7 linked regions of the Homo sapiens genome follow. The protein of the gene in region 7 purifies or fractionates together with the protein of the main gene of each other region. This does not show direct contact. Each region holds a gene or a part of one and is shown on either strand. Other genes may lie near its edges. The genes, in order: OSBPL5, MSMO1, ARFGEF3, SLC7A1, ATP6AP2, SC5D and VIPR1.

The links.
Region 1: the proteins of VIPR1 (region 7) and OSBPL5 purify together in Homo sapiens (co-immunoprecipitation; 2 studies listed by BioGRID and IntAct, with this or other methods). This does not show direct contact.
Region 2: the proteins of VIPR1 (region 7) and MSMO1 purify together in Homo sapiens (co-immunoprecipitation; 2 studies listed by BioGRID and IntAct, with this or other methods). This does not show direct contact.
Region 3: the proteins of VIPR1 (region 7) and ARFGEF3 purify together in Homo sapiens (affinity purification with mass spectrometry; 2 studies listed by BioGRID and IntAct, with this or other methods). This does not show direct contact.
Region 4: the proteins of VIPR1 (region 7) and SLC7A1 purify together in Homo sapiens (affinity purification with mass spectrometry; one large-scale study listed by BioGRID and IntAct). This does not show direct contact.
Region 5: the proteins of VIPR1 (region 7) and ATP6AP2 purify together in Homo sapiens (affinity purification with mass spectrometry; one large-scale study listed by BioGRID and IntAct). This does not show direct contact.
Region 6: the proteins of VIPR1 (region 7) and SC5D purify together in Homo sapiens (affinity purification with mass spectrometry; 2 studies listed by BioGRID and IntAct, with this or other methods). This does not show direct contact.

Annotation. Positions count from the first base shown.
Region 1 is NC_000011.10:3,095,811-3,099,310, forward strand, and holds part of OSBPL5 (oxysterol-binding protein-related protein 5), read right to left. Parts: intron 1-3,500. UniProt on the Homo sapiens protein: Lipid transporter involved in lipid countertransport between the endoplasmic reticulum and the plasma membrane: specifically exchanges phosphatidylserine with phosphatidylinositol 4-phosphate (PI4P), delivering phosphatidylserine to the plasma membrane in exchange for PI4P, which is degraded by the SAC1/SACM1L phosphatase in the endoplasmic reticulum.
Region 2 is NC_000004.12:165,334,169-165,337,668, forward strand, and holds part of MSMO1 (methylsterol monooxygenase 1), read left to right. Parts: intron 1-3,500. UniProt on the Homo sapiens protein: Catalyzes the three-step monooxygenation required for the demethylation of 4,4-dimethyl and 4alpha-methylsterols, which can be subsequently metabolized to cholesterol.
Region 3 is NC_000006.12:138,168,439-138,171,938, forward strand, and holds part of ARFGEF3 (brefeldin A-inhibited guanine nucleotide-exchange protein 3), read left to right. Parts: intron 1-2,223; coding exon 2,224-2,275; intron 2,276-3,500. UniProt on the Homo sapiens protein: Participates in the regulation of systemic glucose homeostasis, where it negatively regulates insulin granule biogenesis in pancreatic islet beta cells. Also regulates glucagon granule production in pancreatic alpha cells.
Region 4 is NC_000013.11:29,533,189-29,536,688, forward strand, and holds part of SLC7A1 (high affinity cationic amino acid transporter 1), read right to left. Parts: intron 3,015-3,500; 5' UTR 3,001-3,014; coding exon 2,631-3,000; intron 1-2,630. UniProt on the Homo sapiens protein: High-affinity, low capacity permease involved in the transport of the cationic amino acids (arginine, lysine and ornithine) in non-hepatic tissues.
Region 5 is NC_000023.11:40,594,470-40,597,969, forward strand, and holds part of ATP6AP2 (renin receptor precursor), read left to right. Parts: intron 1-2,779; coding exon 2,780-2,875; intron 2,876-3,057; coding exon 3,058-3,195; intron 3,196-3,500. UniProt on the Homo sapiens protein: Multifunctional protein which functions as a renin, prorenin cellular receptor and is involved in the assembly of the lysosomal proton-transporting V-type ATPase (V-ATPase) and the acidification of the endo-lysosomal system.
Region 6 is NC_000011.10:121,299,271-121,302,770, forward strand, and holds part of SC5D (lathosterol oxidase), read left to right. Parts: intron 1-3,500. UniProt on the Homo sapiens protein: Catalyzes the penultimate step of the biosynthesis of cholesterol, the dehydrogenation of lathosterol into 7-dehydrocholesterol (7-DHC).
Region 7 is NC_000003.12:42,509,143-42,512,642, forward strand, and holds part of VIPR1 (vasoactive intestinal polypeptide receptor 1 isoform 1 precursor), read left to right. Parts: intron 1-3,500. UniProt on the Homo sapiens protein: G protein-coupled receptor activated by the neuropeptides vasoactive intestinal peptide (VIP) and pituitary adenylate cyclase-activating polypeptide (ADCYAP1/PACAP).

The sequences.
Region 1 (3,500 bases), on a different chromosome or scaffold from region 7:
AGAGGATGGAACGTCACCATCTAGCAATGCCTTTTACATGAATGGATCCAGGCATTGAGAATCAATGTCCACTAATGTCACAAGGAACAACAGGCCCTGTGCACCCTGCTGTGGAAAGACACAAAACCCCCATTAAGCGTCGTGTTGAAAAAAACTGTGCTGAACGTGATCAGGCATCTCGAGATCAAATCAATTCGTGGTTTATAGGAAATCCCCAGGGCAGAGGAATGCAGCCAGGAAAATCCATGCTAGAGGGGACTAGGAGGAAATGAGTAATACTCTGCAAGGGAAAAACAGGAGGGAGGGACATCAAGGAGATGTAAACATAGGACATCCATGCACGGAGCATGGCCTGATGCAGAGACCCAGCCAAACGGCCAACTGTCACGTGTGTGGGGGATCAAGACACAGGCACGTGGCAGCTGGGGATATGAACCAGATTGTAGACTCGATGACAACTAAGAGTTTGTTTGTTTGTTTTTCATCTGATGATAGTATTGTGGCTATGGTTAAGAAGGGAAATCCCGGCCTGGCGTGGGGGCTCACGCCTGTAATCCCAGCACTTTGGGAGGCCGAGGTAGGCTGATCACCTGAGGGCAGGAGTTTGTGACCAGCCTGGCCAACATGGTGAAACCCTATCTCTACTAAAAATACAAAAATTAGCTAGGTGTGGTGGCGCACGCATGTAATGCTAGCTACTCGGGAGGCTGAGGCAGGAGAATCGTTTGAACTCAGGAGGCGGAGGTTGCAGTGAGCTGAGATTGCACCATTGCACTCTAGCCTGGGCAACACAGCAAGACTCTGTCAAAAAAAAAAAAAGACAGAAAGAAAGAAAGAAAGAAGGGAAATCCTTAACTTTAGTGATATAAAATAAAATAAAATACACAAATGACATGACATGATATTTGGGATTTACTTCCAATTAATTCAGGGGAGAGCATGAAGGTGGGTGCATTGCTGTGCTGTGGGTATATGGGGTGTACTGTACTTTGATATATGTTTGAACTTTGCCATAATAAAAAGTTGAAAAAATATATGAAGCATGGATGAGTCAATGAGCATGCAAGAAAAGATGGGAATTCTCCCACAAGAAAAAATAAAGGGGAGAAGACGGGAGGAGGAGAGGAAAGAGGGAGGAGATGGGAGGAGGAGAAGAGGAAAGAGGGGGAAGGTGGGAGGAGGAGAAGAGGAAAGAGGGGGAAGACGGGAGGGGGAGGAGAGGAAAGAGGGAAGACAGGAGAAGGAGAGGAAAGGGGGAAGATGGAAGGAGGAGAAGAGGAAAGAGGGGGAAGATGGGAGGAGGAGGAGAGGAAAGAAGGGGAAGATGGGAGGAGGAGGAGAGGAAAAGGGGGGAAGAGAAAGAGGGGCATTTGTCGATCTGAGATCTTGGTTTCTGAGGTTGCCGTGGAAAGTGGTAGACAGGTCCTTGGGTCAGAGTAACCAGGAGAGATTTTTTCCGAGACATTTCCACTAAGCAGGCACTCTCACATGGCTACACCCTCAACAGAAGGAACAGTCGCAGAAAGGCCGTTCATTCCAGAGGGAGAGTCAAGGAAACATTTGTATTGGGCCTGCGCTCCGGGGTTAAAAAGAAACCCCAGAACTCTCCATGAATGTGTAGGGTAAGTTTGGGATTCAAATCTATACTTCCTCTGTGTCCCAGAAACAACCTACTAAGAAAATGTGAGAGCCAACAAAACAATTTCAGCCAACAAAACGAAAACAAACAAACACAAAACTAGCAAATTAGAATCCCAAGGTTTTACTAAATACAGCCATTCTTTGAATAATTATCGAGCACCTTCAAGGGCAACACTATGGTCAGTGAGGACACAGCAGCAAACAAAACAGAATATGAGAGTGACCAGCTAGAGATGATAAAACAACTGTGCTTATTACAATGCTCAAAGATTTATGAGAAAGGATTGGAAACATGACCAAGGAACAATGCACGAGTATAAAAAGAACAGGCAAGGCCGAGCGCACTGGCTCACACCTGTAATCCCAGCACTTTGGGAGGCCGAGGCAGGCGGATCACCCGAGGTCAGGAGTTTGAGACCAGCCTGGCCAACACGGTGAAACCCCATCTCTACTAAAAATACAAAAAATTTGCTGGGCGTGGTGGCGGGCGCCTGTAGTCCCAGCTACTCAGGAGGCTGAGGCAGGAGAATTGCTTGAACCCAGGTGGTGGAGGTTGCAGTGAGCTGAGATCATGCCATTGCACTCCAGCCCGGGCAACAAGAGTGAAACCCCAACTTCGTCTCAAAACAAAAATAAAAACAAACAAACAAAAAAACCAGGCAGGTTTGAAATGAAACCAAGTAGAACTTCTTGGGAAACAATATATCAAAATGGAAAACTCAGTGGATGAGTTACACGTCAAGTTAATTAGAGTTAAAGATACATCTACATAAGTTATCTAGAATGCAAAGAGATAAGAGATACGATGGAAACATTAAGAGAGACAAAGCAAAGGAGGAGATGGTTCAAATTCTGTCTCATTGGAGTTCTAGGAAAAATGGAGAAATCAGGAGTGAGGCACTTAAAAAAAATGGCTAAAATTTTCTGGACTTCATCAAAGCCACGAAACCTCAGGTTCAAATAATTCAAACAAACAAAAACCTTCAATCAGCAAAAATTAAAAAGAAATCCAGAGCTATCAAGCCATAAAAAGACATGAAGGAATTTTTTTTTTTTTTTTTTTTTTTTTTGGAGATGGAGTTTCGCTCTTGTTGCCCAGGCTGGAGTGCAATGACATGATCTCAGCTCACTGCATCCTTCAACTCCCGGGTTCAAGTGATTCTCCTGCCTCAGCCTCCTGAGTAGCTGGGATTACAGGCATGCATCACCATGTCTGGCTAATTTTGTATATTTATTAGAGACGGAGATTCTCCATGTTCGTCAGGCTGGTCTTAAACTCCTGACCTCAGGTGATCCATTTGCCTCAACCTCCCAAAGTGCTGGGATTACAGTTGTGAGCCACTGAGCCCAGCAAAGATTTTTTTTTTTTTTTTGAGATGGGATCTCACGCCAGCCCAGGCTGGCATGCACTGGTGCCACGATGGCTCCTCAAAGCCTCTGCCCCCTGGGCTCAGGTTATTCTCCCACTTCAACCTCCCAAGGCTGGGACCACAGGTGCACCACCATGCCTGGCTAGTTTTTTGGTACTTTTTGTAGAGACAGGGTTTTGCCATGTTGCCCAGGCTGGTCTTGAACTCTTGGGCTCAAGTGATTCCCCCAACTCTACCTCCCAAAGTGCAGGGATTTATAGGCATGAGCCATCATGCCTAGTGGAGGAATCTTTAAGTGCATATTGCCAAGTGAAAGACGCCAATCTGAAAACGCTCCACACCGTATGATTCCAACTACATGACATTCCGGAAAAAGCCAGGGCCTGGAGGGACTGAGGAATATGTGGCTCCATCTAGTCACGTCTAATCATAAGGGATTTTTAGGGTAGTGCAACTATTCTGTGAGATGTGGTAATGGCAGATACATGT
Region 2 (3,500 bases), on a different chromosome or scaffold from region 7:
TTGCAATTCCGTGTGTATTTTACATTAATTTTAGTCTATCTCAATTTAGACTAGCCATGTTTAAAGTGTTTGGAAGCCACATGTTACTAGTTGCTCCTGAATTGAGCAACACAGTCCTAGGTCATTATTGATAACATTTCAAGAATACTTTGTTAAATTGGGCTTTAAGTAGATGTGATGGTTATCTAACTTAAGTTTATGAATTTTAATGTTTAAGCTAGCTGGAAAGGAAAGGTGTGGTGATTTGCGCATATTTTGCAGTTCACCCCAACTCTATGTTCCAGTAAATCTAAGGGACTGTTAATACACTACGACCTTGATCAGGGCTATTCAAGTTTTTTTTCCCTAAATATATGGTAGGTAGTTCTGCAGCATTCGTATCATCCCAAATAAGGAGGTGATGCTCCTCGTTTCTGGATATTTGCTTCATTGCACTAAATGTTGAGAGGTCGCTATGTACATGACAAGGTGAAATCTCATATGTAGCCTGTGAGCTTGACGTGAGAATTTGGAGTAGCTTATTAGAAAGATGAATTATTTGTTAGAATTTGTAAGCTGATGATAGTTTCTAGTGTTTGCTGTTTACTTTTCATAAAAAGTCATTCCAAACTAAAACTCAGGGGCACACAGTCTTGGTAGAAAGTAGACCATTGAGAGTATTCATCTATGGAAAGTAATTTACATTCACTTAGTACAATTGGCCCTCCATATCCATGGGTTGTTGTATCCATGGATCCAACCAACTGCAGATCAGAAATATTCAGGGGAAAAAAATTGTGTCTACACTGAACATGTACAGTCTTTTTTTTCCTTGTCATTATTCAAAATGACAACTATTTATAGAGCATTTGCATTTTATTAAGTATTATAAGTGCTGTAGAGATGATTTAAAGTATACGAGAGGATTCGTGTAGGTTATGTCAAATACTATGTCATTTTATATCAGGCACTTGAGCATCTTCAGATCTTGGTATTTGCAGAAAGTCCCAGAACCAATCCTCAAAAGATACCAAAGGACAACTGTATATATTTTGGATGGCAGTCTGTACACATTCTCTGTTATCATTCTGTTAGTTTCACAGCCTCTCCCAGAGTCTCACTTTAAGCAGGTATTAATATTAGTCCTCTCTGGGGATAATGCAGGGGTCAGATGACTGTGGACTCCAGGCCAAAGGAGAAAAGAGCAAAGGGTAAAGGCGAAGGAAATAAAAAATAGGAGGGCCAAAGGAGAGTACTCTGTGACCCTCAATTAAGGTCACAGAAGCTCCAAAGTGCTTTTTAGGAAAGCAGCTGCTTTGAAAGGCAGAATTAAGTTTGGACGTCTAAGTTCTAATGCACCTTTAGGGTGATTGTGGCTGCCGTGTTTCACCCAGTGATTTATTTATAGGGCTTATTCATTGTAATTCATTGTATGGCTGGCCAGGCAAAAGCATCCTTTTTCTCCTTCACTGCAGTTTGTAACTGACTCACTGGTTAGAAGTAGTAACCTTTGCAGAGAGACAAAGGACTTTCTCAGGCAAGGGTATATGAGCAGCTTTAAAATATAATGTGGCAAAGGAAAGAATAAGCTGTAGTCTAGTTGGTCAGAGCTAGTTGTTTATGAACAGATTGTAAGGCTGGATAATTTGACTTCAAGTCTGTACTCAGCAAGTCTTTATGTTTCATAACCATTAAAGTCCATGCTTTGAGCATTTTTGATAAAAAATGTGATTTTAAACCAGGACTAGTTTTCACAAGTTAAAGGAGTTTTAAAAGAAACCAAAATATTGGTACAAATTAATTACAGGTTTATGCATTTCGAAGGCAGATACCCTGATTAACATTGAGGGTATCAATTGTTTAAGATAAAATATTTGAGAATTATATTTAACATATGCAATAAATGTTTTTATTCTTAAAATTGTCGAAAAGAATAGAAGAAGTTGGTGGTGGTGATGAAATAGTACTAAAGACTTTCTGCTTTCAAACAGAACAGACAACTGGAGAGCTAATGCACATCCTTGCTAGTTAGGCGAAAATTTCACAGGAATGAAAAAGTAAAGCAGACTTTGCAGGATCTATTTCTTTAAAAAAAAAAAAAACATACATCTTAGTAATTCTCCAAAAATTTTCCTCAAAGATAAATGTACTAAAAATATTATTTCTGAAGTTTGTGGCCCTTGTAAAGGTATTCCTTTATATTAAGTACAGTTATGCATAAAGAAAGTAAAATATGGTAAACTTTCATATTGCACTAGGTATGAATTTGTATTGCTAACTGTCTTTGTAACTAATTTATGTATACTGTAAATGGTATAGCATGTGATTTTATTATAGTTGATTAACTTTGTAATTTCTGTAACTGCATCGATATCCCAGTCTACCTGGAAAATTAAGTCTATTAACCATAGTTGCTGTAGGAGACAGTACTATTGCCAACTGAAGCCTGAATCCTTCATTTATTTTGTCCCCAATTACAGAGTGGAGGTTTAGAGGAGTGGGGTTAGATAATGCTCAGATTAGAAATACAAAGGCAGCTGTCAGATCCTCCCATTTTATTGTTGAAGAAACTGAGTTGTAAACATCACAAGAGCTAGTTAACTGGTGAGTAGCAGCCCTGGTATTAGAGCACAAGTCTCTGGATTGATTCTTAGTTCAGTGCTTTTCCTATTTTTGTCAGGAAGATAACCCTTAAAGAATTTCAAGAACAGAGCTGGATCTGGAGACCTAGATTTTAGTTAGTCCAACTTCTGCTAATAACTGCGTGTGTGACCCTGCCCAAGCTGGTTGACCTCTTTGGGCTTCTGCTGATGCGCAGTAGTTCCCGTACTTTGGATATCGTGGTTCAATTAAAAGAGTTTTGTTGGCGGATACCTGAATTTTTCAGCAGTGACATTTAAAACAAAGCAATAACTGATATTTATTGTCACCATCGTTTTGTTAAGCCCAAAGCACTTTTTTAAGTGCAGTCCTATAAATTGAATACATTTAGTTAGTGTTTGTTTTGTTTTGCTTTGTTTTTTATAATGACTTGCTAAGCAAATGGGTATCCTGATGAGGTCTTAACGAACATCCCATGTTGATCTAACTTTTCTCATTTTGACTTGAATCTGTGAACTCCATAATCAGGACATATCTGTGTACTTCTCAACTCAGAGAGTTTATAATTCTGTCATTGGATTTGAACAAAAGTGCATTTATTTGTTGGAATGAATACCACTGAGTGCCTGGAAGCATCGACTTACTGTGTAAAAGGCTTCCAATGCTTCGTATACAACTTCTTCAATTGTGGACACCCAACAGTAATCTTAGCATATTATATTTCTTCTTCTCTGAAACTTCTGGTAAAAGAAGTGAAGTGAATGATCTGTGGCAGCAAAGACTGGAGAATTATTCATTCCATAGTGTTTCTTAGTTTGTTTGAGATCATCATGGCTAGGCGCATCTGTTAACAGTTTCTTCACCTGAAGTAGTGATAGTAGTTGTCAAGAATTTAGAAGGCAAAGATTCCTGAGTCTTAG
Region 3 (3,500 bases), on a different chromosome or scaffold from region 7:
CCAGATCATGAAAGTCCTTGTTGGGCTCTCTAAGGATGAGATGGGGAGTCATTTGGGGTGGAGGAAATGCTCTCATCTGGGTCTTGACAGGGTCTCTCAGGATACTGTGTTAAGCAGAGACTGCAGCTTCAGGGGCAAGCCCAAAAGCTAAAAGCCTAGAACAGAGGCTGGTACAGTCATCCAAGTGAGAGAAGGTGACAGCTTGGACCAAAGTGGCAGGACAGAGTCAGGGAAGATGTTGAGATTCTCCAAGCATTTCAAACTTATTATTCCCTCCACTCGGAGTGACCTCTCCTTATCTACTTTAAATAAATCATTTGTGGTCTCATTACCCCCAGCAGGAAGCCCTGACCTCACAGTCCACAGTAGGACCTCCTGTTCCACTTTTGCCTAATTCCCTGTATTTTCCTTCCTGGCGTTTATCATGCTTTGAAATGAGAATGTGCACTCCATGAATTCATGGATCGTGTCTGTTCTCACCACTGGGTCCCTAGCCCAGGACCTGGTTCAGTGTTTAGTGAGAGATCAAAGAAGGGAGACAGGAATTGGCACTGGCGTCTAAGGACTGTGTCAGGCCCTTTATGATCATGATCCTATCAGCTCCTCACAAGCATCCCGGGAGGAAGGTGTCATTGTCTTCTTTCTAAAGATGAGGGAACTGAAACTTACAGAGGATAAGTGACCTGCCCCCATCCCACAGTGTCACAAGCTGGAGTGGAGCTGGGAGTGGAACCTGGTTCTCTTTGCTTTCCTTCTTGATGCTTCCATGGTGCCCTCTCCCCAGCTACCATTCTGTCCTGGGTGCTTACAGCAAAGCTGCAGGCCATTTTCTCCTTGACCTTTGGATGCTCTTCGCCTTGGGTTCCACACTGATCCCATGTGCCTGGGAGTCTCACTGCACTTAGAGCTGTAGTTTCATGGTGGCTGCTGTGTGACAGCCTTTTCTCTTTTCCTTTTCTTCTAGCTTGCTCTTAGCCTTATAGAGCTGGGCACTGTTACCCAGCCTTGGTTGACTATATATCCCTCTGTCCTGCGGGAAAACCATGCTGATCTGGTTGTTCACTGTCACTGCCTTTCCTTGGGGAGCAGCATCGGCTCATCCTGGGTGCCAGTCCCTGCTGTGCTAACTGGTGGGCTGCACTGGCCTGTGTGGCCTTTGAGCTGCTTCCTGTACCTGCATCTCAGGGCTTCCCTTTCTTGTCATCCTGTCTCATCTTAAGCATTGACTTCAGTCCTTCATCTTCCTCCATTGGCCTTGTCTTCACAGAACCAAGAACCCTGCTGAACTCATCTTTCTGTTTTGCTGATTAATTGTCTTTCTGAAATCCACTCTTTTGCCCCACTGGCCATATCAAGCCCAGATCCTATCAGGCCTGTTCTTAGCCTTGAGTCTCTGATATATGTATATATTTCACATTTGTTATTCTCTCTGATCTCTGAGCAAGGTGGGAAGAGACATTTCTCCTTCCCCAATGAAAATAGTTCAGATAGACAGGGCTTGTTGACTCCAAGGAGTGAAGAAAGGGGTCAACACAATTTCAGCTGCAAGACTGGAGACAAGTTGGAAGGATTGAAGTAGTACAGTTTTTTGGGGAAGAGACTGGTGAGCTTTTCATTATCTCTAAAATTGGAGGCAGCAATAGTGTGAAAAATCCACAAACAATGGCAAAGTATTGAACATCCAGGTTGGATTAACAAGATTTGGATGTGAGCCTTCCAATCAATATCCTAACTATACTGTAATTTTTTAAAAAAAGTTTAATCTACTGTGTCACAAATGTGTATGAGAATAATAAGATGTTGTGTAAGTGCTTTGTGAACTTGAAAGTCTTTCACAAGTATGAATTATTGTGTAAGGATATTGAAACAGTATTTTCAAGGAAACAGCTTTTCTTTATTTTTATTACAAGAATATTGTATCTTAGTTGTAACTAGATTCAGTGGTTCAGACTAGGAATTTAACTATTCGTTCTTTATCTGTTTAGGGAAATGTGCCCTAACTTTTAACTTTCCCCTCCTAGTTTGCAAGGTCCAGGGAAATCTCTGGGGCTCTCAAGGGAAAAGGATTTTAAAATATGAAGGACTTGCATGCAGATAGTTGAGAATTGACTAGTTTATAATTAGAGGAATTCCTGAAAAGAGAAACTAACAGAGAAATTCATGTACAATGTATATTCTCAGTGTTTAAATATTTATTTTAACTTTGTAATTTTTCTTTTGCAGAAACTCTAGGTGGTCTGGATACCATTGTCAAGATCCCTCCACATGTACTGAGGTAGGAGATGGACATTGTATAATATCACAGAAGTCAATATTACCCACTGAAGGCCCAGATAACCACATTGGTTTACAGTGTGTCTTAGTTTGTTTTGTGCTGCTATAACAGAATACTACAGACTGGGTGATTTATAATGAACAGAGATTTATTAGTTCATGGTTCTGGAGGCTGAGAAGTCCAAGATCAAGGGGCCACATCTAGCAAGGGCCTTCTTGCTGCGTCATCCCAAAGGTAGAAGGACAAAAAGAGGGTGGAACAGAGAAGAGAGAAGGGGACTGAATGCACCCTTTTCTAACAAAGCCCCACTCCTGTGATAACAGCATTCATCCATTCATGGAGCAGAGCCCTCATGGCCAGATCACCTCTCATTAGGCCTGACCTCCCAATACTGTTGCATTGGGGATTACGTTTCCAACACTTACTTTTGGTGGGGACACGTTCATATGATAGCATAGCATTTTACTTGCTGACTAAAGGCTTTCTTGCACCCATGAGCTGGGATATTTCATGAGGTTACCATGATGTGAACCTGATTGCATTCGCTCCCCCTGTCTGTAGAGGGAATGAAATCAGTGACCTAAAGGAACCAGCCATGGAAGTCCATGGTAAAAGGATCAAATTGGTCAAGGAGAGACATGATCAAAACTTATGTGAAGGAGTAGAAAGAAAATTGCACTCCCTCTGATGGGCATGCACCCCTACACTAGGTAGTGTGGATTTAAGCTCTGATTGGCAACCCTGGCTGGACATCATCTGACTGGTTGTGAAGTCCACAGCCACATGTAGCAGCCCAGAGATAGGAAGCCTATTTCCCCACCTTCTTCCCCTCCCACTATAACTTCCCCCAACCCTCACTGGGAGAGAAATGCCTGCCTCTGTAGAAAAATTGGAAAGAACAATACAACAAAAAAGAAAGTTGTCCATAACTACATCACCTAAGGATAACCACTGATAACAGTTTAATAGATTTTCTTAAATGTCTTTTTCTATACACATATATTTTTATAAATTAATATAAAATTTTATTCACGACTTTGTTGCCTGCTTGATTTTTTTTTACTCAAAACCATATGAAGAATATTTTCTAATGCCAGTATATGTTCTTCAAATTAAAATGTTACATATACTTCCATTATATGGCTGTAGCATAATTCATTTAGCAGTTTTCCTATTGTTTAATAACACTTGGGCTGTTTCCAGGGTTTTCTTTGAGATTATAAAG
Region 4 (3,500 bases), on a different chromosome or scaffold from region 7:
GAATGCACTTCACATCCTACCCAATATACACAGGTGTATTCTATCAAATATATATATCCGAATAAAAAGTTCGCAAAACGAGTGTTACCCTTACCACCTGAGAGGCACTCTGATAATATTTAATGCTACCTACTTTGTTTCATTAAAAAAAGTAAACATTGATGACAACTCATGAAAAATTGATTTCATAATGCACTCCTGGGGTGCAGCTGGCAGTCTGGAGGAATGCTGCTTAGGAAGCCTCTTTTCTAGGAACCCCTTGGCTGCAGAGATGATGGTGCCTGCACCATAATTCTTCTCTCAGCAAGAAGAGGGGCCCTAGGAAGTCCTTGAAGGGGCTGAACTCCATCTCAGGGACAAAGCCACTTGCTCATCTCAGTGTTGGCATCAGCCACCTCTGCCACTTTTTGCCTGAACCTGATTCGGAGGCCACAGCATCCCCAGAGTGCAGGACAGCAGACAGACCCCAGCCCTCCTCGTTCTCCCCTCAGCCTGCACCCTCCGGTGCCGAAGAACACCAACAGGGCAGCACTCAAAATGCCAACAATAGTTGGCTGCTGTCTTTCACTCTCATTCTCTCCTCTCACATAATTCTAAAGGGTGTCAGAATGTGTTTCCATTGGTGTTTCTCAGGAAATGTCACTAAAATTCCAGCATTTTCATAGAGCGTTTTCCTTTATTTTCAAAGCGGGCCTTGTCGGTGACCATGGTCCTAATTATCCACAGCATATTGCCACAGTGATCTGCAGAGATTCAATTTCACTATTTGGTCTTATGATAAGTAAGTATCTTTCCAACAACTCAGAAGTTTAACCACATTTCTTCCTCCTAAGCAGCCAATCTATTATGAATTCTGTAAAAATGGTCTCACCATCTCCCTGTCACCCCCAAAGCAGCTGGCTTATGGCAAACGTGGCTCCCAAACCCTGTCCTGCTCAGTGACAGGGGCTACCCCAGCCTTTCTTCCCAGCCTATCCACTCCCAATTTCTGAATTATGCCTTTTAAAAAAATGTTTGCTGGAAAAACTGCCCTTCCCAGCAGCTAAGGCTGAGAACACATTTTTATAATGCATGCAAATGGTTTCACACAAGCAAACGGCACTCTCGCAGAGCCTTACATTTGTTGGTCTAGAAGCTGCAAGCATTTCATGCTCAATGTATATTTTATGCTCAGGTAAATCCTCTGGAAACATAACGGTCCATTTACAATAGCTACATTCCCAGTGAGAGACTTCAGCTTGTGAGAACCATGTGTGGTTGTTAAGTTTTGATGTGGCATTGAAAGAAAACATTGTGAATTTTATTTTAGAACCCAGAAGACTAAGCTATGTTGGCTCTCAGCAGATACTGCAGCTGCTGGAAAGAAAGAGAAGGTGCTGCTCGGAGAATGTGAGTGTGTGCCCTCCCCCAGCTGTCCTGGTGAAGGGGGAGTGATGCCCCCCATGCAGAGATAGGGCTGTGGGGAGCCCAGGGCTGCGAGGATCCCAGCAGGCAGCATGTGTGGCCAGGGAGGGTGTGGTGGGGTCCAGTGGGAGCTGACACAGAAGCAAGGCGGAACCCACATGGCTCAACTTAACAGGTCTTACTGTTTTTTCGCTATTACCAAAAAGTTTGAGAAAAAAAAAAATAAATGGCATGTTGAGTGGCCGTTTGTACCCTTTGCTTCTGAGACTTAGGTTTTTGTTTCTTTTAAGTTGATGTGTTCAACTTCAGTTGTAATCAAAATACAAAAAAGCATAAAGAGAAGCAAAGCGTGTTTACCTGGCAAACCGGAAAGATTTTCTACATTTGCTTCCTTATTTGCTGGGTGGATGTGTTACAGGCCGATGCCCAGTGCCCACACTGCAGGGAAAGGGGCCCCTGGCTACGTGGAGGATCACAGTCAACAAAGGCCTTAAAAACACGCAGACCCACTGACAGCCATTCTGCTCCTTAGACAGTTTTAAGGAAAAGAATCATGGCTAAGCCCAAAGACATAAAGTAATTAACTGTTAATAACAACAGCAACAACATAATGGAAACAATCTGAACATCCCATAAAGACACCAATACATTACGCTGTGTATATAAATCTATACAATGGTAGGCAAGCATTAGAAATGTTACTGTGGAAAAATAGCTAATGATATGAGAAATGTTTACTATATATTGTTTTATAAAGAGATACACTGTAGAAAAATACACATTTAAATTCACAAAAATGTTAACCATAGTTGTATCTGTAGACAGTAAACTTCTGAACACAGAGTGTCTTATGCCTTCATGGGATCCCTAGTATCTAGCACAATGCCCAGCCCAGAGCAGGTACTCAATGAACATTTATTAAAAGAATGAATGAATGAATGAGAGAATTAGTTTCTCCATGTTGTCAGGCAGGGTATTTCTACTTTCTTCTTCATGCTTTTCTTTATTTTCCCAATTTTTCTCTATCAGTGATGCATTTACTCTAGTAATTTAAAAACCTACTAAAAGAAACTAAATACCTCTAAATGAATCAGAAACATCCTATTAATTCTGTGCCTCTCGTGTTAACAAGAATGACCTCCCTGTGGGGCATCCACCCACACTTTGGAGGTGGGAACAAACAGAAAAGTGGTAGAGGGCACGAGCTCCGGACCCCTGGGACCTACCGATGATGTAGGAGAGGATTAAGTTCCAGCCGGTGATGAAGGCCCAGAGCTCTCCAACGGTGACATAGCTGTAGAGGTAAGCTGAGCCCGTCTTGGGGACCCGAGCACCAAACTCGCCATAGCACAGGCCAGCCAGCACTGAGGCCAGCGCAGCGATCAGGAAGGAGATGACAATGGCAGGGCCTGCATTCTCACGGGCCACAGCTCCAGCCAGGACGTAGACACCAGCACCCAGTGTGCTGCCCACCCCGAGGGCCACCAGATCAAAAGTGTTCAGGCAGCGAGACAGCCGCGTCTCCTCCCGGCTACAGTCCACCACCTTCCGCCGCAGCATCTGCTGCCCAATGTTGAGCAGGACTTTGCACCCCATGTTGCTGTTCAGAGCTGTTGAAAAAGAACAAAGATGTTTCCTGATTGCTCCTCATTTCACCCATTACTCTAATCTTATCACATTATGGAAACACAGACAGTGATCAGGTCCTTCATAATCATTTCCTGCTAAAACGCTTTAATTCGTAGAATTCCACCATCAATTGTCAGAAGCACGCAGACTTCTCCAGTTTCACCAGCACATACAGAATTAACCCAGCAGGCCAACAGATACAGATGACTTCATTTCGAGGTCTCTGAGCTTCCACATTTGTAGCAGGTCCTCTTAATGGAGACTCTTCCATGGGTGGAAATTATGCAGTAGAGGAAACACACATTAATGACATTGTTCCTACACTCAGTCATCAGATAATACACCAGGAAAAACAAGGTGTTAGTTCAAGTATGCTGTAATAGAAAGCAAACCAAACCATATCTTAATTTCATTACTAAATTAAATTATTAAATTATTAAAACTCAGAGGCCCTGAATGGCAATAAC
Region 5 (3,500 bases), on a different chromosome or scaffold from region 7:
GCATTGTCATAATAATGAAATGATGCTGATCAAGTGAAAATTTTGATATAACTATTGGGTAAGAGTGGGGAGATAGAAACAGAAGCAGAGCGCATGGATGGCTCAGCGCATGGATGGGGCAGTGGTTGGTGATGTGAGAGAGCTAAAGCCTCATTTTCTATAATGGATAGTAAATAGACAAGACCTAAAATTGAAAAATCAGGAGATGTAATTTAAGTGTCTTATTTAGAGATGTTAAAAGCAAAAAAAGTCAACAAGAAAAGATAGTTGGAATAGATGCACTCCTAAATAATTCATGGGTTGAGGAGGAAATCACTGTGGAACTTTTTAAATTATTTGGAACTGAGTAACAATGAATGTAGCATTTATTTACAAAATTGGGAGGTGCAGCTAACGTGGTAAGAAAAGGGAAATTTATAGCCTTAAATGCATGTTTTAGACAATTTAGGTTGTCTAAGAATGGAAATTAATGAGCTAAAGAAAGCGGAAGAACTTCAGAGTAAATACACATAAAGTAGAAGGAAGGGAACAATACAGATCAAAAGGCAGATTATTTCACAGGGAGCATTTAAGTCATTTTTTATGTGATTTCTGTGAAAATCATTGCAGAAGATTTTCTTTAAAATTATAAAAATCCAAAATGCCATTTTGAGATTTTTATTAGCATGTAATCCAAAAATAAAGATTTAAAAACAGACTAGCCTCATTTTACATGAGAAGAAGCTGTGCTGTGTGAGGAGCTCATTTTATTGCTTGGCCCTGGTTGGCTGCTCAATGCTTTTCCTAGCAGAAGATGGTAAATGAGATAAAAGATTCAGGGGCAAACCCCACAAAACATAAAAATCAGAGTATCTTAGAATTCCATTTAACGAAGCTTCCATTTGATTAGCTAGCTGTTTTAGTTAGAATTTCAAGTCATACAGGTACAGAAATTTGAGGACAGATATGCATCTCCCTTACAATACAGTGAGAGAAAAACCATCATTCGATATTAAGCAGCCAAGCTTTTTACTTTTTGAGCTTAGCTGCCTATATAATTATTTCTTTTCCTTCATTGGTGTTCATTTGATTCATGAGCTGCTTCAATTTGATCGCTATGGACATGGTTCCTAATCTTCAACTTTCCTGAACCGAGCGCCATTTCACTAAGTGAAGTGAGGCTGGAAAGTTTGCATCATTTGCTCATGTATTCCCCTCACAGCCTGAGGAGGTAAACTCTATGATCGCTAAAGGAAAGCACCTATAGATGATTCAGGGCGGCTGCTAGCAGTATGCTTTTGCAACTTTGAACTCTCTTCCCCCTCTTCACTTACTCATTAACTCATTTTGAGAGAATTTGGGGAAGAGTTAATAAGCATCTTGAGTAAGAGAAAAAAATTATTTCATTTCACAGAATCATAAAATTGATCACTTAATATTGATGCTGGGCCTGGGCATGGTGGCTCACGCCTGTAATCCCAGCACTTTGAGAGGCCAAGGCAGGCAGATCACATCAGGCCAGGAGTTTGAGACTAGCATGGCCAACTTGATGAAACCCCGTCTCTACTAAAAATACAAAAATTAGCCAGGCGTGGTGGTGCGTGCCTGTAATCCCAGCTATTCAGGAGGCTGAGGCAGGAGAATCACTTGTACCTGGGAGGTGGAGGCTGCACTGAGCCGAGATCGCGCCACTGTACTCCAGCCTGGGCAACAGAGTGAGGCTCTGTCTCAAAAAAAAAAAAATGTGATGCTGGGATTTTATCAGTAAGACATAATCACATTGATTTCTGCCTGTATCATATTAGCGTTACTTTGCTACTTGTAAACATGAATCTTTAAGTAGTAAGGGAACTACTGAATGAAAGATCAATGTAAGAAATCTCCATTAAAACAAAAACATGACTGTACTGCTTGTTTTAATACAGTAATACTGGGAATGAAATAATTTTTTTAGGGGAAAAATAACTGTAATTTATTTTTTTAAATCATGTACTGCAAAACAAATCTATGGGGATAGAAGTCAGAATTTTTGTTACCCTTGAGGGTGGAGGTAGTACTTCGAGGGCGCTGATAGTGTTCTGTGTCGATCTGGCTGGGCTACCTGAGTGCATGCATGTGTAAACATTTGTTGAGCTGTTACCCCAAGATTTGTATACTATATTATATGTATTTTGCACTTTAATAAAAAAATTGAAGGAAAAAAGTAGGTCTTATCACCATTGGTTATTTCAATCTAATAATATCAACATGTCCTAAGATAAAGGCTTCAAAAACCTTGTGACATACTTAACACCTTATCTAAGAGTCTTTAGGCTATCTGAAGACAAATGTTAAATCTCATTAAACATTTTTAAAATTTTGAAATGAAAGATGAATTCCATTTTTATTTCAATTAAATTCAATACTCAGATTCCTCTAACCTCTTAAATGCAAATTAAATACTTTATTGTGGAATATGCATTCATCGTGGCACATTTAGTCAATATTGAAACCAAATGTATTGCTGCTTCAAATACATGAATGACCACCAGAAAATGGTTTGTGCTAGATATAGTGTTGTGTCCATCAGGTTTAAGTTATTTTCCACTGAGGCATGATGGGAGATACAGACTTGGCTTACCAGGGGGCTGTTTAATCTTCTGTGCCCTCAAAAGGGCTTGTTTGGAAATGATTTCGGGCTTCTAAATTTCCATAGAAAGTGCTGGAAAAAAGTTTAAGGCTTCTTTTTAAATACCATCTGAATGATTTTTCTTCCCACTTTGGTTCACATAATAATTGCGTTCTTACTCTTAAATTTCAGGCAGTTCCTTTTAGTCTTGACAGTGTTGCAAATTCCATTCACTCCTTATTTTCTGAGGAAACTCCTGTTGTTTTGCAGTTGGCTCCCAGTGAGGAAGTAAGTGATAAGGGTTTTATTCAAGACATTTTAAAAAATAAGCTTTTATTATTTGAAAATTATGAAATGTAATTTTATTATGAAAATATAAAACTAATTTATGAACAATGTTGTCATACCTCTGGGTATTGGAACTAATCTGTAGAATTTGAGCAACTTAAAATTTTCTATTCTTCTTACAGAGAGTGTATATGGTAGGGAAGGCAAACTCAGTGTTTGAAGACCTTTCAGTCACCTTGCGCCAGCTCCGTAATCGCCTGTTTCAAGAAAACTCTGTTCTCAGTTCACTCCCCCTCAATTCTCTGAGTAGGAACAATGAAGTAAGTGCAGTTATTCAATGAATACATGAATATCATTAATTTCCGTCTTTTTAAAAAATAGAGACAGGGTCTCACTCTGTTGTCCAGGCTGGTCTTGAACTCCTGGCCTCAAGCAATCCTGTCTTGGCCTCCCAAAGTGCTGGGATCACAGGCTTGAGCCACTGCATCTGGCCTCCCATTCCTTATACTACTTGAAATTTTGGAAATTTTGCTATTTTAGAAAATGAAAGATTGTGCACATTTACTGCTGGGGTAGATTCTTCTTTAGTGTAATTTTCTTATGACTCTCATGAATAAACTGATCC
Region 6 (3,500 bases), on a different chromosome or scaffold from region 7:
GCCCATGACCAATGTCTAATTCCAACCTGATAGGCCCTTCTCTTTAAGATTCTCAAGCAATCAGATGTAATGAACATTTATTGCGTGTATGTATACATATACATGCACAAGTATTTAACTTTGATTTTATATATATTTGAAAGTTTACTGAATTTTTCTTTTAAAAAGAGAATACATTGTTTATTGTCTGTACCAGTCTATTTTCCATTTGTCATTTGTTACTCCATACATAATTACATAAATTGTTAATATACAAATGAATTATAATACCATTTACAGTATGTACTTATCCCACTTAATGTGAATATTCACATTTTCTAAACAAATATTTGATATGAGCTGGTCATGGTGACTCATGCCTGTAATCCTAGCACTTTGGGAGGCTGAGGTGGGTGGATTGCTTGAGTCCAGGAGTTTGAGACCAGCCTGGGCAATATAATGAGCCCTTGTCCATACAAAAAAATTTTTTCTTAATTGACTGGGCATGGTGGTGCCCACCTGTAGTACCAGCTCCTCAGGAGGCTGAGTCAGAAGGATCACTTGAGCCCGGGAGGCAGAGGTTGCAGTGAGCTGAGATTACACTACTGCACTCCAGCCTGAATGACAGAGCAAGACCTTGTCTCTAAATGAATAAATAAATAATAAAAAAGAACCAAAACCCCCAAATATTTGATTTATTTAATGACAGGGAGAAGTTTTGACCTTTGCAAAATGTATTTATAGGAATTTTGAATTCCGAAATAACATCTGATGCCAAATGTTTTAAGTAAGAATGGTAGTAGACCTGTATTATAAAAAAGGAGATGGTGACTTCCAAAACAGCAGAGTAAGAATCTCTGAAAATCTCTTCTTTATAAAAAGCAACAAAACACTGACAGAAGTTGTCAGAATCAGCTTTTTTAGAGCTCTAGGAATTAAAACTTTATGAGTTAAAGCTTTACAATAATCTTAGCAGCCTTTATTTGAGAAAAGTAGTTGAATCTCAGTAAGAACAATGAGCTTTGGACATTTTCCGTCCTTTACCATCTCCCTTTTGCTGACTTCATGGTAGCCTTGAAAACTAAGCCTTACAACACAGTAACTATGAAAAACAGCAGCCTGGATGGAAGGTACAGAATAGGTTTGCAGCCTCACCAAAGGCCACAACCCAGAAAATCATCACCACTTGATCTCTCTGGCAATTCTCAAGGCTTGTGTTTATATGACCTGTCTTAGAGCTTGTTCAATATCATCCTGTCCCAGGGTGTTTTGTCAAGGAGAGTCATTATTTACACATAACAGGTCTTAGAGGCACTATTATCAGCTGGCACTAACAAAAGCCTGACCAAAAATACTTAAAAGGGAATACTGAGAAATGAGATATCCCTAGGGGGCTTTGAAAAGCTCTGTTTTCCTGAGAATCTAGAATGATTCCCATGAGCAGGGCTGTTGCACATACCCAAGAAAGGGGAGAAGGCCCTAATTTCCCCTTTGGCTGACCTTGAGGGTTTACGCAAGCAGTAAGTTCAGGCCAGTCAATTTTAGAGTGACAACTAAAGTATTGAAAGCATGGCCCAACACAGCACCTTGGCAAAGGCTGGGGGACTTAACTGGTTCAAAGCACTTAAGAAAATCACTCCAGTCATTAGTAAGAGACTTGTAGCTGCACACAACAAATAAAACAGGTATGTAATTAGTTCAGAGAATTACTTAACGCACAGCAACAACAAAAGCAACTTAAAGCCCTGGGGCAGGGTGGGCGGTGGTGCATACAATCTGATTTCAAGAGTTACCCCATCATATTACTTAAAATATCCCATTTTCCATAAAAAATTAAAAAACACAAACAGGAAAGTATGGCCTGTACACACAAAAAGGCAATCAGTCAGTAGAAACTCTCTCTCAGAAAGCCCAGATGTTGGACTTACAAGGCAAAGACTCTAAATCAGCTACTACAAATATAAAAGAACTAAGGAACACCACGTTTAACTAACTAAAAGGAAGTATTAGAACAGTTTCTTCCCAAGTAGAGAATATCAATAAAGTGATAAAAGTTTTTTTTTTTTTTTTTTAAAGAACCAAATGGAAACGCAGGTGTTGAAAAGTACAGTGACTGAAACTGTCTTGCTTAACAGCAGATTTGAGCCAACAGAGCACAGAACTGGAAGATAGGTCAATTGAGATTAAACAGCTGGGAAGAGAAAGAAAATGAAGAAATACAAACAGAGACTTGGGGACACTGTCATGCATTTCCACATAAGCATAATGAGAGTCCTAAAAGGAGAAGAGAGAAAGTCATAGAAAGTTTAAGAAAGAGTGGCCCCAGACTCACCAAATTTGATGAAAAACTTTACACATCCTAGAAGTTCAACAGTATAGGGTTGGGGTTTATTTTTGGGGTGCTGAAAATGTTCTGAAACTTGATAGTGGTAATGATTGCATAGCTCTGAGAATGCTAAAAAACTAGTCAATCATATACTTTAGTGAATTTTATGGTATGTGAATTATATCTCAATAAACCTGTTTCTTTAAAAACAAAAAAAGGAGGAGCATGATATTTATGTAGGGATGGAAAGATCTCCAAGATATATATTCAATTAAGAAAAAGGAACTTCATGGTGTATATAGTATGCCATGTTTTGTAAGGAGGGAGAGAAAAATTTGTCATCATTCCATCTTACATTAACAAACACCGTAAGGATTCTCAGGAAACTAATAGATATGGTCACCCAGAGAGGTGGAAATGAAATGACGGTGTGGTTTACAGTGACATGGATGGAAGCAAGGCTTTGCATTGTATGTCTTTTCCTGTCAGTTTCTCATTTTCTTAAATCCCTGTGGGAATTTAGTGGAGAAATCTCATAGGGAATCTAGTGAAGGAAATAGGCTACAAAGAAGTAAATAAGTATTTTCAGAATTTTCCTTACCTGTGGGCTATTTTGTTTCATGAATTGATGTTTATTAACGTGGCCCAATATGTAGGAGATAAAGGCCGTTTGAACACCTGAAATCTATTGTGGGTAGGCAATTTGCAGATTGGCTTCTTGTTCAAAAATTTCAGTTCAAGTGAGAGACATTTTAGATGCTGAACACGTTTTCTTGTGCGAACAATGCAATGAGGGATGAGTGAGTCGATCATAAATGATAGATTCCATAGTCAGATCACAAAAGCTGACCACAATATCACCGAACTGTATTGTAACAGGACCATGAGTATAGAATGGACTTAAATATGTACTGAACTGACTAATGTTTTTTAGAGTTTAAGCATCTGAAACAGGAGTTGGCAAACTATCTGTAAATGGCCAGGTAGTAAATGCCTTCGGTTCAACGGGCCATACTGTCTCTGTTGCAGTGATACTATAAGCCCACCTTTGTAGCAGAAAAGCAGCCACAGACAGTATGTAAACATCTGGGTGTCGCTGTGTTCCATAAAGATTTTTACAAAGCAGGCTCTGAGTTTGGCCCGTGGGCTGCAATTTACCAACTCCCGATCTGGAATATTGATTAGAGGTAGAGAA
Region 7 (3,500 bases):
GCATGCTTGGCAATTTGCAGACAGTTCTTTCTCCTGCCTCACCTTATCCAGCCTGCTGCATTCTGTGCTCCTCTCAGAGACCAGCTTCTCCTCGGAGGGACTCATGCTTCCTGCTGTGCTACTTGGCTCCTCCTGCCCTAGTTCTCTGGCCCCAGATGATGAGGCTGGGGCTTCTGATTCGAGGCAGTAGCTGTGGTCTCAGGCTTCCCTTGAGGGGATTGAACATGGCCTACGAACCTGAGCATGGCCCACCCTGTCTTTCAGAGCCCCTTGCATCTAACAGCTACAACTCCCAGCATCTTCACCCATACCCCCATCACCACACCTAGCCTTTGCTCCAGATCTCAGAGAACCCCACATGGACAGGAAAAAGCAGGGCTTTCTCTCTAGCCCCTCACCAATTCCTATGCTTGACTGAGCTCCAAAAAGTAAGCTTAAAGGCAGCCTGACCCTGCCGTTGAGCTGAGGCTAGAGAGTTTTGGTCCAGGCTGGGCTCTCAGCACCTTCTTTGGGGCAGGAGTTCCTAAGCCCAGAAGGGACCCAGGCTGAAGAAGACTGAAGAAGTCCACAGCATCTTCTCCATCCTGGTCTTCTTCTGTCCTCTGCCATGGGGCTAGCGGGATGTGGGAGGTGAATGACAGGGAGTTGGCAGGAGAATCCTGAGTCTAGTTGGAGACAGGGACTAACCAAGTCTTGTTCATTCCACCTGCCCCCTCCTCTCTGTGCCCTCTCTTTATACCCACTGTCCTGCCCAGGCTTCATCAGTTCCTGCCTGGACTGGTGCAGTAGCTTTCAGCCCCACCACCTGCAACCTGAGGGATCTTTGTAAAATGTGTATCCCCCATCCTCAGTCTCCTGCTTCAAGTCTCTGTTGGCCCCCATGGCCTAGGAGTGAAAGCTCACACTTGAAAACTGGCATTCCAGGCCCTTCCCAATCCTACCCCAGTCTACATCTCTCAACTTGTCTCCTGATGCCCCCAGAACTCCTTGCTGCAGCTACACCAGGCTTCTCACAGCCTTGCATGTATTAGGCATTTTCATGCCTCCATGCCTGTGCACACGCTGCTCTACTTTCTGGGGTGCTCTTACTCCACTTCTAATTGTCTAACTTGCACATCCTCCATGACCTACCTCTACAGAATGAGTACAGCATACCCATTCTGTAGGAAGCCCAGACTCCAGCTATATCCCACCCTGGAACACTTCCCTGACATCAGTAGACTTGGCTATATTCAGCCAGGGAATTTTTCAACTCTCTCTGTGTTCCTGAAGTCCAGAGGGATAATGAGGATGTTTAGAATAGGGAAATAAATAAGTGGGAGAGGAAGTCCAAAGTCTGCCTGAATTCCTTAGTGATAAGGACTAGAGGGAGCTGCCCTGGCCCGGTCCCTCAAAGGGCAATGGTTGACCAGAGGGTCCAAGGCGAGGCTGTGTTGAAGGATTGATGCAGTCCAGACCAGCGGTCAGAGACTTAGGTCCCATCTGGGAATGCGCATTTGCTGGGTGACCTCAGGTCCCTCTTTGGGTCTCCATTTCCTCTACCCCTCCCCAGATAGGGCTCAACACTAAACTAAATTGTGACAAAGAGAGAGCTCATCTTCCAGACCACACCCACTGTTTCATAAACACCACAGGCTTCGGTACCCACCCCTCCTTTCTCTCCAAACTGCCTCTAAGGAAGGGCTGTGTGTCTGTGCTGCTGAGGGGGCAGAGTTGGCTGGAGAAGTTGACCCAACACTCTTCTACCCTCAGAGAGTCGCAAGCAGAAGCTGCCAGAAATCCTAGGCGCCCATGGTGATTGGGAAACAAATATTTCTTGGCAAACTATATGGCCACAGTCCTGGCTTAAGAAGGCCCAGAAAGTGAGGGCGTCCATTATCTTGTCCTCAGAGGGCAAGGCTGGACACTTTTGTTTACAGCGACCAACAGAAAACTCAACTGATCCAAGCCATAAAGGAAAGGCATCAGCTCATGTTGCTAGCAGTAGAGCTGGTTTCAGGCATGGCTGCATTCACAGACCCAGACAATATTAAGAGAACCTGATTTTTCTCCATCTCTCTATTCTGCCTTCAGCTGTATAGTTTTTATCCGTGTGTTCCACTTGTCAACAAGAAGACAGCAGAAGCTTGAGCCCTTGCTTCCTTTAAGGTTTCCAGTCCAGTGGGGAAAAACCAAATTCACTTTCTTAATCACTTAATCCAAAGTCCCAGGAGTGAGCCTCCTGGCTCTGAGTAGCCTGACTCAGGCCATGTGTCAGGCACTGTGGCCAGGAATGCTCTGATGGACTTAAGCCTTGGTCACATGTCAATCCCCTGGAAGAGGGTTCATCAGAACTCCATGAACTAGAGGTAGGGAAGGAGGTTGTTTCCCAGACACAGATGAGGACATGGCACCAGAAGAGAGTAAAGGATGGTGGAAGGCAGAAACAAGAGATATCTGCTACCATCCATCCTGTTTTGACGTTACAGTGTTATGAGAGATAAGAATGGACAGGAGAATCAGGAGACGCTGGGAAGGGGCCAGAAAGCAGAAAGAACCCTGTTGCTGGTGGGAGATGGGGTTGGGATGGTACCTTGGTGAGAAATGTGCTCCAAGACAGGCAAGACAGACCAATGATGGGACACAAGGCAGGGTAGCCAGTACCCAGATTCCTCTTCCAGAAGCCACCTCTGAGATCTTCCTGGCCACTATTCCCCCTATACTTGAGGATGAAACAGCCACAAATCCCTTGAGACAGAGTGTCTTGAGCATTTCAGCCTGAGTAACCCTTATGGGAAGGAGAGAAAGCACATGACCCCAAAGAGGAACCACAGACAGTTTCCTTGAAGTCTCCTATCTTTTAACAGTTATACGAGTAACTGTATCATGCTCCATCACACAACTGTGTTACTTTCAATAAGTTTTAAATGACTTACCAGCTAATGTCTTTACCCCCATTGGCTGGTAAAGGTGCAAGATGGAGCTCGTGCTCACTGTGGCTTCCAGGGCAACAGCACTTAGGCAGGTGAGGTCTGGATGCTGGGGAAATCTAAAGGAGTCCTGGAGAGGGAGGCCTTCCCTGGACCTGGACGAGGTCAACCATGGTGCTAGCTGCTTCTGGGAGTGTTGGCCTGCAGGTGACCTGTGAGACAGAGGCTCCACCAGAGAGCCCTCAACAGGAATGAGAGAGCTGTTTGGGGTGGAAAGGACTTGGCTGTGCAGCTTCTTAGGCACTGAGTTGTTCAGCTTCAGCTTGGACCCCTCTCCCTCCGCAGCAATGGATTGCTGGCTGCCAGCTGGGATGCACATCCCAGTAAATGGAGCTGATTTACTTAAAACAATGGTCAAAGTACTAAGCACTTTGGTGCCTGCAGGCCAGGAGGGACCCCCTTAAAGGAAGGTCCCCCACCTATGTTCTTCCCACGGACCCACTTCAAGAATCTCTAAGTCGGCAGGGGAGGTGGTTGAGGCCCACGTAGCCTACAGAGAAACTGAGGCCCAGGGAGGTAAGGACCCTGTCC